Linked DNA regions of Homo sapiens. The protein of the gene in region 1 interacts with the protein of each later gene in a pairwise test. Each region holds a gene or a part of one and is shown in the gene's direction. Other genes may lie near its edges.

Region 1 (5,371 bases):
TAGAAATGCTGTGAATGATTCCCAGCCCTTTTTCCCTCCTCATATTGGAGTCACAGAGCATTGGTAGATTAAAGGCTCTGAGAAGTCCTGCACTAAGGAATCCTGTTTATCAGAACATTTTCTCCCTGCCCGTAACACCCGTCAGCATCCCATGGAGTCCTCTTTGGGGTACACGACTTGTAGGGAGGGATGCAGGTGGCAGACGCTTCCTTCCCTCTGTCCCTTCGGCTTTCCTTTGTCCTCTGCTTTCTCTCCTTTTCCTTGAGGAGGGAGCACGTCTGCTTAACCTGTTTTGATCTACCTTTGTGTTCTTTTTCTTAACATCCATGATGGATTTCCAAGGAACAGGAAGGAGGCTGTGGGACAGGGTGTGGGTGCGTGAGATAGGCTGGGAAGGCTAGGAAGGGTGGGGTGGCTGGCTGACTGGATGAGCAGTTGGGGTGCAAGGCAGCCTATTGGCAAAGTGGGGCAAATGTCAGGCCCAGACAGCCCCCTCGCCCAGCTGCTTGGGAAGGGGAAGATAAGGAGTGCCAGCTGTTTGGAGTCGAGGTGGAGTCACCGCCCTCTGCTTGTAGGTGAAGGAGGAGTGCCGCCTGCTCAATGCCCCTCCAGTGCCTCCCCGGGGTGGCAATGGCAGCGGCCGGCTCTCCAGCAGCCCCCCGGTTCCCCCTCGCTTCCCCAAGCTGCAGCCGGTACATTCCCCCAGCTCCAGCCTCTCCTACTACTCCTCTGGCCTCCAGGATGGGTGAGTCCCTGCCTTCCCTTGGTCCTGAGTTCTAAGGTAGATCAAGGCAGGGAAGGGTGAGGAGGGGGAACTACAGTGCTGAGGAAGAGGAAGTCTTGAGGCCTGGGAGATTCCCGAGGGTGCAGCTCCCTGTGCAGTGGCTCAGGGATTGGCACTGCTGTCTGGGTGTCTTGGGGCCTGGGGCCCAGTGGCCTGTTCTGCCCACTTCAGCTTCTTTCTCTCTTAAATGTTGAGGAACGGATGGGAGCATTGCCCTGGTCCCCTCAAGGTGGGGACTTTGCTGCAGGATAGAGAGAAGAGAGCTCCTTGCTGTTTTGAAATTTTGATTAAGTTCAGGCCAGGTGCGGTGGCTGATGCCGGTAATCCCAGCACTTTGGGAGGCCGAGTTGGGTGAATCACTTGAGGTCAGGAGTTCAAGACCAGCCTGGCTAACATGGCGAAACTCCATGTCTTCTAAAATACAAAAATTAGCCGGGCATTACGGCACATGCCTGTAATCCCAGCTACTCGGGAAGCTGAGGCAGGAGAATCGCTTGAACCCGGGAGGTGGAGGTTGCAGTGAGCCAAGATTGCACCACTGCACTCCAGCCTGGGCAACAGAGCGAGAACACCATCTCAAAAGAAAAAAAATTGAAAGAAAATATTTTTATTAATTTCAGTTTCGTTTCATTTTTCCCCTGTGTTTTCTGACCTGGGCTGGGGGATGCTGGAAGGAAGAACACGGCCATTCCGGAGGGTCTTGGGCTGGGGCTGGGGTGCAGGCCCGTGTTGCTGAGGTCATAGTGGTGCTTGGTTGCAATGCATGTGTGACCCTATCGGATTCCCTCTCAGCCTCACCTGTCCTATGTGTGTGTGTCTGTCTCTGTCCACAGGGCGGGTTCCCGCAGTGGCAGTGGCTCCCCATCGCCGGACACCTACTCCCTCTATTGCTACCCATGCACCTGGGGAGACTGCAAGGTGGGCGAGTCCTCTAGCCGCCCAGCCCCCGGTCCCCTACCCTCAACCACACAGCCCAGCCAGGCCTCCCGGGCCCTCACAGAGCCTCTGAGCGGTCGAGCCGCCTCCCTTCTGGGGGCTGACACCCCTGTTAAGACCTACCACAGCTGCCCTCCTCTATTCAAGCCCTCACATCCCCAGAAGCGCTTTGCTCCGTTTGGAGCTCTCAACCCTTTTTCCGGGCCTGCCTACCCCTCAGGCCCTTCAGCGGCCTTGTCTTCTGGGCCCAGAACCACCTCGGGTCCTGTGGCTACCTCTGGCCCTGCGTATTCCCCAGGCCCAGCCTCGCCAGGCCAGGCCTATTCAGCTGCTCCCCCCTCCTCCTGCGCCCCCTCCTCCTCCTCTTCTTCTGAATGGCAGGAACCAGTCCTGGAGCCCTTCGATCCCTTTGAGCTGGGGCAGGGCAGTTCTCCAGAGCCTGAGCTGCTGCGTTCTCAGGAGCCCAGAGCAGTGGGGACACCTGGGCCTGGACCCCGCCTTTCACCACTTGGCCCCTCCAAGGCCTTTGAGCCTGAAGGTTTGGTGCTGCACCAGGTCCCCACCCCACTGTCACCAGCTGCTCTGCAGGGACCCGAGGCGGGAGGAGCACTTTTTCTAACCCAAGGGCGCCTGGAAGGGCCTCCTGCCAGTCCCCGGGATGGAGCCACAGGCTTTGGAGTCCGAGATGCCTCCTCCTGGCAGCCCCCTGCTGACCTGTCTGCACTCTCCCTGGAGGAGGTCTCTCGCAGTCTGCGTTTCATCGGGCTCTCAGAGGATGTGGTGAGCTTCTTTGCCCGAGAACGCATCGATGGTAGCATCTTTGTGCAGCTCAGTGAGGACATCCTGGCAGATGACTTCCACCTCACCAAGCTGCAGGTCAAGAAGATCATGCAGTTCATCAAAGGCTGGAGGCCCAAGATCTGAACTGCCCAGCTGGAGCTGCACAGCTGGAATGCTGGTATGGGGGCCCCAGGTACAGCACTCCGGAGGAGCAGGTGCTGCCTGCAAGAAGGATCTATGTCGAGACTGAGGCTGCTCAGCAGCCACTGGGTGGATCCAGGGGAGATGCATGTGGAAATGTGGTCCTCTGGGGTCAGACCCCTGCACGGGACATCTTGCCTTTGAGTGTGCAGAGTACATGGGGAAGGGGCTGGGGGCACCACTGTGTACCTGGGCCCAGTAAGGCATTTGCCGTGATTCCCACAACGGGGTCAAAAGCTGGCCTTCAGGGTGACCTAACACCACCTCATGCCCTGCTATAGACCTTCACAAACGACTTCCACTGCTGAAGCCTGTAGGCTCTGTTTAGAGACAAGAAGATGGCTGGTAATTTAAGCACCGATTTCCCAAGTGCCCACTCTCCTTTGTGCTCTGTTGGCTTTTGGCCTAAAGCTGCCCCAGAGTGAGGGTGTAGATGTCTGTGTCTGTGAGATGCCTTTCCCTTCCCCCTCTGCTCCACCGTGGTTGAGGGGGGTGGGGCCTGGCCCCGCACACAGGTGAGTCGTGTACAAGCCTAACCCATGGCACCTCAGAGGCTCCACCTGTGGGTCCTGGTTCATGGGTGACAACTTTGGAAGAGCACAGCTCTGCAATTGACCCGACCCACTTATCTAGTTAGGAAGCCAGACACTGCCCAGATGACTCTAGCACCCTGGCTTCTGCTCTGACTTTACTGCAGCTAGTCATCCATCCGTCAGGTGGCGTTCAGTCTCAGAATACTGATTCCGTGGAAGAGCAGGTTGATTTAGGTCAGCTTCTCCTTGATTCTAGAAGCAAGCGGTAGTCAACCACCTCCAATTCCGCCAATCTCTTGCCCCCATCATTTGTCTCTGACAATACTTGGTGTTTTTCCCTGGTTTTCTGTCACTGGCACAGGAGGGTACAGTTGGGAGAGTGCGTTCCTGGAGCTCAGTCCTGCATTTGTTCACGTGCCTCACAGCAGGCCTTTGTGCCCTTGAATCTCAAACATGGGGATCTGCTTGGTACCCAGAGCTCTGGTCATTGTGTCCAACCACACACCCCACCCCATCCGTGTCCTCCATCTCACCCAGAACCACAGGGTGCCCACTAGTGTCAGGGCCCAAAGTGCCAGCCTTCTCTTCTGCCTTACCTAGTCTACCTATTTATTTCCTCCACTTTTTATCTTAAAAGTAGCTAAGCCATGCTGGTGCCCATACTCCAAGCAGGCTGCCTCAGCTCAGAGAAGTGGTCAGAGAGTAGAGCACAGAACCTGTGATGTGGGGACATTTGGTTTTCTTGCAGATCATTTAATGAATCCTCAAGGACTAATGAAATAAATGCTAGACTGCTGAAGATGAGTACAAGTGGCATTCTGGGTGCCAGCTGCTTTCTTCTTTTGAAAACAAGGCCATGGGGACCCATGGGCACAGTGTATATGCCTTCTGGCAGGAGAGGACTGATGGAGGAATGATGTGGGTGTGTGGCCATTCCCATGTCTGTGGAGGCGGCTGGTGGCAGCCTTCATTCCCTTCTGCAGGGCCCTCGCCAGCCCCTCCCTACCCTTCAAGAACCCCCACCCCAGCTTCCACTAGTTTCAACATAATTCACACCTACCTGGTGTTACTGAAGGGAAAGACCCAGGCTCAAAGCTGAATGCCACCAGCCAGGGCCCAAGCTTAGCTTCCTGCATTGGCAGAATGCCGGCTTCAGGCTCTCTCAGACCAAATTTGGAAACCGGTTAATGGCTTTGGTGCAAGGGATCAGCTCCCTACTCTGGTCATCTGAAAACCTCAACTCAGAGGTGACTTGGTTTTAGAGTCTGGCTTCCTAGTGACCAAGCAGAGCCAGACCTGATCTCCTTGCCTGCCAGTCCCAGCTACAGAGCTGGGACCAGGGACATATTTGAAGTACAACTGGAGCAGAGGCAGGAGTAACTGGTAATATCTGACAATTTAGAATGCAGAATGTGATGGGACTGGAATTACGATTCCGCACACACTCAGCGTGGATCCTTCTGCCAGACCCAGTTAGCCCCAGTGCTGTTTACCCAGACTGGGCACTGCTTCTGTAGGAACTTTCCATCCCAGGGGGTGGGGTGGGGAGGGGCTGAAGCTTTGGGGGAGTGCAGGTGCTGTGGGGGTCAGCACTCCTCATGCTGCTCCCGTGCTGCCTGATTACCGCACAGGCATTTCTGGGGCAGCCCTGCTATGCAGGATCTCCGAACATCAAGGGAGATGTCAGCGCCTCTGCTTAGCACCAACGTTCCCACAACCATCCCAAGAAGCACCTATGAATGAGGCACACCCAGAAAAGAAATGGGTAAGATCACACAATGAGGAAATCCAGGCTGGGGAAAGAGGTTTAATATCCCGGTACACCGTGGTGAGAAGCCTGGGCAAAGCATCTGCACAGACAGGTGTGTGTGGTTGAGCCCACCAGGTCCCACTTTCTCTCATCCCAGTCCCTCCCTAAGGTGCTGCCTAGAATTCTGCACACACATTCTTACTCCCCCAAAGCACAGGGCTTTCTTCCAGATTGCTTTTTGAAGGAGGCGTTTAAACCAGAAGGGCAAAGATGCTGACACAGAGTTTGGTTTTTATTGTTATGTGTTTGGCTGGGTGCAGAACTGCCCTCACCACCCCTGGCCACCCTGGCCTCTTGGGAGGAACAGGCAGAGAGGTGGCTTCAGAT
Region 2 (4,755 bases), 2.0 Mb from region 1:
CCTCTCTGCACCACCTCTATCCCCCCCACTCCACTGCACCTTCTCCACTCCTTTCTCTCCATGACTCACCTCACCTCTGCTTGGGCTGTGGTGCTCCATTACATGCCACACCTGTGGTCTGTCTCCCTTCAGCTCCTGAGCAGCCACTGCTCCTCCTCACCCTCCTCTAGGGCCTGCCATCCACCCTCTCCCTTTGCAGCCAGGGGGCCTAGACCCTAAGTCTGCCCTCTCCCCATCCTTCTGCCCCTGCCTCCTCCCCCTTCTCACTTCACCAGACTTCAGTCCACGTCCTGTCCCCACCAGTGACACCAGTGGCCTAGTTAGTGGCTCAGCTCACTTTCCCTGCCCCAGCTCCCTGCACTGATGGCAGTCACTGAGGCGCTGCCTTCCCTCTGGACCCCATGGCCGCCTTCCCAGTTCTTCTTCCACCCTTGCCCAGGCCTCTCCCCGACCTCTGTAGCGCTCTCCCTCGGGGACCCCACCGACCCCCAGCTTCAGGGTCAGGCTAGCCACACTCTCCCAAGCCCGCGCCTCTGAACAGCACCCTCCAGAGAACCACCTGCCCCGCTGCTCCCACATCACACATCGGCTTTTCCCAAGGGACCACCAGCCTCCTTCCAGCAGCAGCTCCTCCTGGGACCCTCTGTGGACAGTAGTGTGGTCCCTGGCCACCCAGGCCCCTCCCTGGCACCTCACACCTGGTCAGCTGCACTGCAGTCCTCCTCCCTCGCCACTTTCCCATCGCCCTTTCCTGTCCCCGTATCACAGGCCCCCGATCTCCCACCCAGGCTGCAGCACAAGGCTCTCTTTCCTCTCTGCCACCCATCCTCTTCATTTCTGGAGTATTCTTTTTTCCAGAGCTGCTCTTATACCTCTTCCTGCTGAAGTATCTTCCCTATTGCCTCCCAAATTAACGACACATTTCTTACCCCACACTCAGGGCCCATCCCCACTACTACCTGCCACCCAGCCCCATCCCTAGCTCTTTCCTGTGCCCGGCCCATCCAGCTGCCTAGTTGAGCAGCCCATTGTTGCCCTGCCTGGCCTTCCCATGTGAGCTCCCCCTCCAGCTCAAGTGCTCTGCCCTCACCTTAAATTCTTCCCATCCTTCAAGGCCCACGTCAAACACAGCCTCCTCCATGACACCCTCTTGCCCTAACCAGTGTGACTTCTACCTGGACCCCCCGCTGTCCTGAGGCTGCGATCATCCTCCGGGCGCTCATCCTCTGTTGCCTCTGCTTGCGCCCTCTCAGTCCCTGCTTTTCTCACTTAATGGCCATAAGCTCCCTCAAGGCAACTCCCTCCCACATCGGGGCCAGCATGTGACTTATGCCAGTGGGGCTCCAGATTTGTTGCACCGGTGATGTCCTCTGTGTTCATGGCACAGATCACTCACCTGCTCAGTGGAGCCGCAATGGTCTTTGTAAAGCACCCCCCACCCCACCCTGCCCCACCGTGGCCTTCAGACCAGAGCTCCCACATTCTTCTCCAGCCTCCACATGAATGCCAGGCCCCAACCTCCCTGCTGCATCTCCAGCTGTGCCAGGCCAGCCTGTGGCCTCCACCCCACAGGGGGCCTGTGCTCTGAGCCAGCTGCATCTCCACCTTCCTCCCCGCCGGCCCCCTGCATCTCCACCTTCCTTCCCGCCGGGCCCCCCCATGCAGCCTGCCCTCCTGCCTGGGCCTCCCACCAGCTTCCTGGCTGCTATAGTTGCAGCTCTTTATGTGTTTTTTTATTCAGGTTTCCCCCATTTTGTTATATACTCCTAAAAGGTATGTTTAAAACAGCTTTTGCTAATTTAGTGTTATTTTAATGGTACTTTAAAAGCTTGCTGTTGAAAAATCAATGATTGATCATTTCATAACGCATATGATCTCTTAATTGGCCAAAGATGTCAATCCGGTTTTTCTGCCTGAGTTTTGCTTCCCATCAGCATCTGCATATGTTGCTGTGCATCGTCCGTGCGTTCAGTCCTTCCCACATTTGTCAATTACTTTGTGCCAGGCTCTGTGCTAGGCTTAACTGAGCCTGGACTTTGGTATCTGATGTTTAAATGTTGACCCTGCCATTTAGCAGCTCTGAGTGGATCACACTCCAGTCCTTTCTAAGCCTCAGTGTTTCTCATCAGTAAAATGGGGAGCTACATTATCAGGTAATTATGCAGTTTAAATAATATAATTTACATAAGTCTAGCACATGCCTAACACAAAGTAAGTATCCAGTAAATGTTAGCTGCTATTAAGTGCTGCACAAATACCATGTATTATTTTATTAATATTACTATTTGCTAGGCAATTGAGGGGTTAATATAAGGATGATCGAAACAGTCCATGCTCTACCCTGGCTCCTGTCTGGCAGAGGAGACAGACATTACACACGATTTCAGACCCAGCAGGCTGTGGGCTGCTCATAAGCGAGGGATACTGGATGCAGAGGAGGGAAGGGATCTGGGAGGTAGATGTGGGATCAGACCTGCATCTTGAAGGATGAGTAGGATGCTGACGGGCAGAGAAAGCAGGCAGGGCAGAAAGAGCAAGCAGGGGCTTCCTAGCAGGCAACACAGCCTGGGGAAAGGCACAGGGCAGCCAGATGCTGGGCTGTTGGGCCCAGGGCAGTGGCAGATGGGGACAGGGAGCCGGTAGTGTTATGGTTGGTTTGAAAGACAGGGTCTGCATCCTTGGAGAAGAGATTAATGAGACTTGTCTTCCTCTTTTGTAGCCCGCTCCCAAAAGACTTCAGGCATTGGGCGCCTGATGGTGCATGTCATTGAAGCTACAGAATTAAAAGCCTGCAAACCAAATGGTAAATACTGCCTTGATTCATTCAGCAGACATAACTGCCCTGCCCCAGTTTTTGCTGATGACTTTTTGAGACAGAGTCTCAGTGTATAACCTAGGCTGGAGTGCAGTGGCACGATCTTGGCTCACTGCAACCTCTGCCTCTGGGGTACAAGTGATTCTCAAGGCTTAGCCTCCTGAGTAGCTGGGATTACAGGTGTGCACCACCACGCCTGGCAAATTCTTGTATTTTTAGTAGACACAGGGTTTCACCATGTTGGCCAGGCTGGTCTCGAACTCCTGACCTCAAGTGATCTGCCCGCCTCGGCCTCCCAAAGTGCTGGGATTACAGCACTTTGTCACTGACAAAGTGCCACTGCGCCCAGCCACTGATGACTCTTCTGAACACTGAATAAAGGAATGCTTTCTAACAGTGTGTCCAGTGCCACTAAAATGCGCATATTGGACCAATATTCTTATCACTGTTTTCCCAGTAAGTGCCAGTGCCCGCCTTCCCGAGTGTGTCTGCGCCGAGGAAGCATGCAGCAGGTTGCAGTGACACTCACCCAGGATTGTTCCGTGCGGAGTGGTCCTGGCGGTGGAGCTCTCGGCCACTCCCCAGTTAATGCTGCTGTCAGCACTGGGAACTTGGAGACCCTGTTACTAGACCACAGGGATATGGTGCCCCAGGCAGCGGCTCCTGCTGCCATGGTCTCGAGTGACCCATTATTGGAATCCTGCTTCTGCTCAGGGAGGGCACTGTCAGTCGCTTCGTTTTACCTGCATGCACCACATGTGTCTGTGGTTTGTTTTTGTTCAGGAAAGAGCAACCCATACTGTGAAATCAGCATGGGCTCCCAGAGCTACACCACCAGGACCATCCAGGACACACTCAATCCCAAGTGGAATTTTAACTGCCAGTTCTTTATTAAGGATCTCTACCAAGACGTGCTGTGTCTCACCCTGTTTGACAGAGACCAGTTTTCACCAGATGGTAAGTGTCGCTCAGCCAGGGGATCTAAAGGCTTTCCCAGTTTCCTAGATCCTGGAGTCCAGATCTAGGGGCTTCAGCTGTGTGCAGACCCCATGCCACTTCAGGGAAGTGACACAGGCCTGTGTCATCTCGCTTTGGCAGCAGGTGGGTGGCCTTCCTCAGGGGAGGAGGTGGCCTGAGATGTGTTTCAGGTCTTTGACCCATCACTCCCTACACACACGACGTGAACACCACTCCTGGAGCATTCTCAGAATGGAGATTTGAATTCCATGTGGCAGCTTCTCACACACAAACCTGCCATCATTCCCCACACACCCACTCACGACATTCAACAGCCATGAGCCAAAAGAAGTTCCTTGTTTCAGATTTGAAGGTTTTATGAATCCACTTCTTCCGGATGTAGCTCTTTAATGATTTTATAAAGAAGAAAGACTTCTGACTCTCCTGTGTTTATTCACCAGATTTCCTGGGTCGTACTGAAATTCCAGTGGCAAAAATTCGAACAGAACAGGAAAGCAAAGGCCCTATGACCCGCCGACTGCTGCTGCATGAGGTCCCCACCGGGGAGGTCTGGGTCCGTTTTGACCTGCAGCTTTTTGAGCAAAAAACTCTCCTGTAGGGGTTCTAAAGGACAGCACCAGCGGGACAGCCCACAAGGCTGGGGCTGGAGAATGAGAGACTGCGCTCTCTTGGGGCTGAGGGAGCACCATGCAGCTTCACCCCTCACAAAGCCATGCACGCTGGGGGCTCTGTTTTCCTGCACACTAAATAGCTAGCAATCTATGCAAACACCTTTCCCATAAAGAAACCAAACCCCATAGTACAGTGCCTTGTCCTAGTGTTCACATGTTCAGCTCTGTTTGTTTAGATGCCAAGGTTTCCATTTTCAGGGCTATAAAAAGTATTACTTGGAAATGAGGCATCAGACCACCAGATGTTACCGCTCGGTTGAATGTGTCCACCGTGGAGTGGTTTGGTGACGC

The links. Proteins that work in one complex are often made in the same cells at the same time.
Region 2: the proteins of GAREM2 (region 1) and ITSN2 interact in a two-hybrid assay, tested with the Homo sapiens proteins (one large-scale study listed by BioGRID).

Annotation. Positions count from the first base shown.
Region 1 is NC_000002.12:26,185,614-26,190,984, forward strand, and holds the end of GAREM2 (GRB2-associated and regulator of MAPK protein 2), read left to right. Parts: intron 1-575; coding exon 576-745; intron 746-1,617; coding exon 1,618-2,644; 3' UTR 2,645-4,050; downstream 4,051-5,371. UniProt on the Homo sapiens protein: Probable adapter protein that may provide a link between cell surface epidermal growth factor receptor and the MAPK/ERK signaling pathway.
Region 2 is NC_000002.12:24,203,262-24,208,016, reverse strand, and holds part of ITSN2 (intersectin-2), read left to right. Parts: intron 1-1,741; coding exon of another isoform or gene 1,742-1,770; exon of another isoform or gene 1,771-1,773; intron 1,774-2,719; coding exon 2,720-2,803; intron 2,804-3,598; coding exon 3,599-3,772; intron 3,773-4,233; coding exon 4,234-4,391; 3' UTR 4,392-4,755.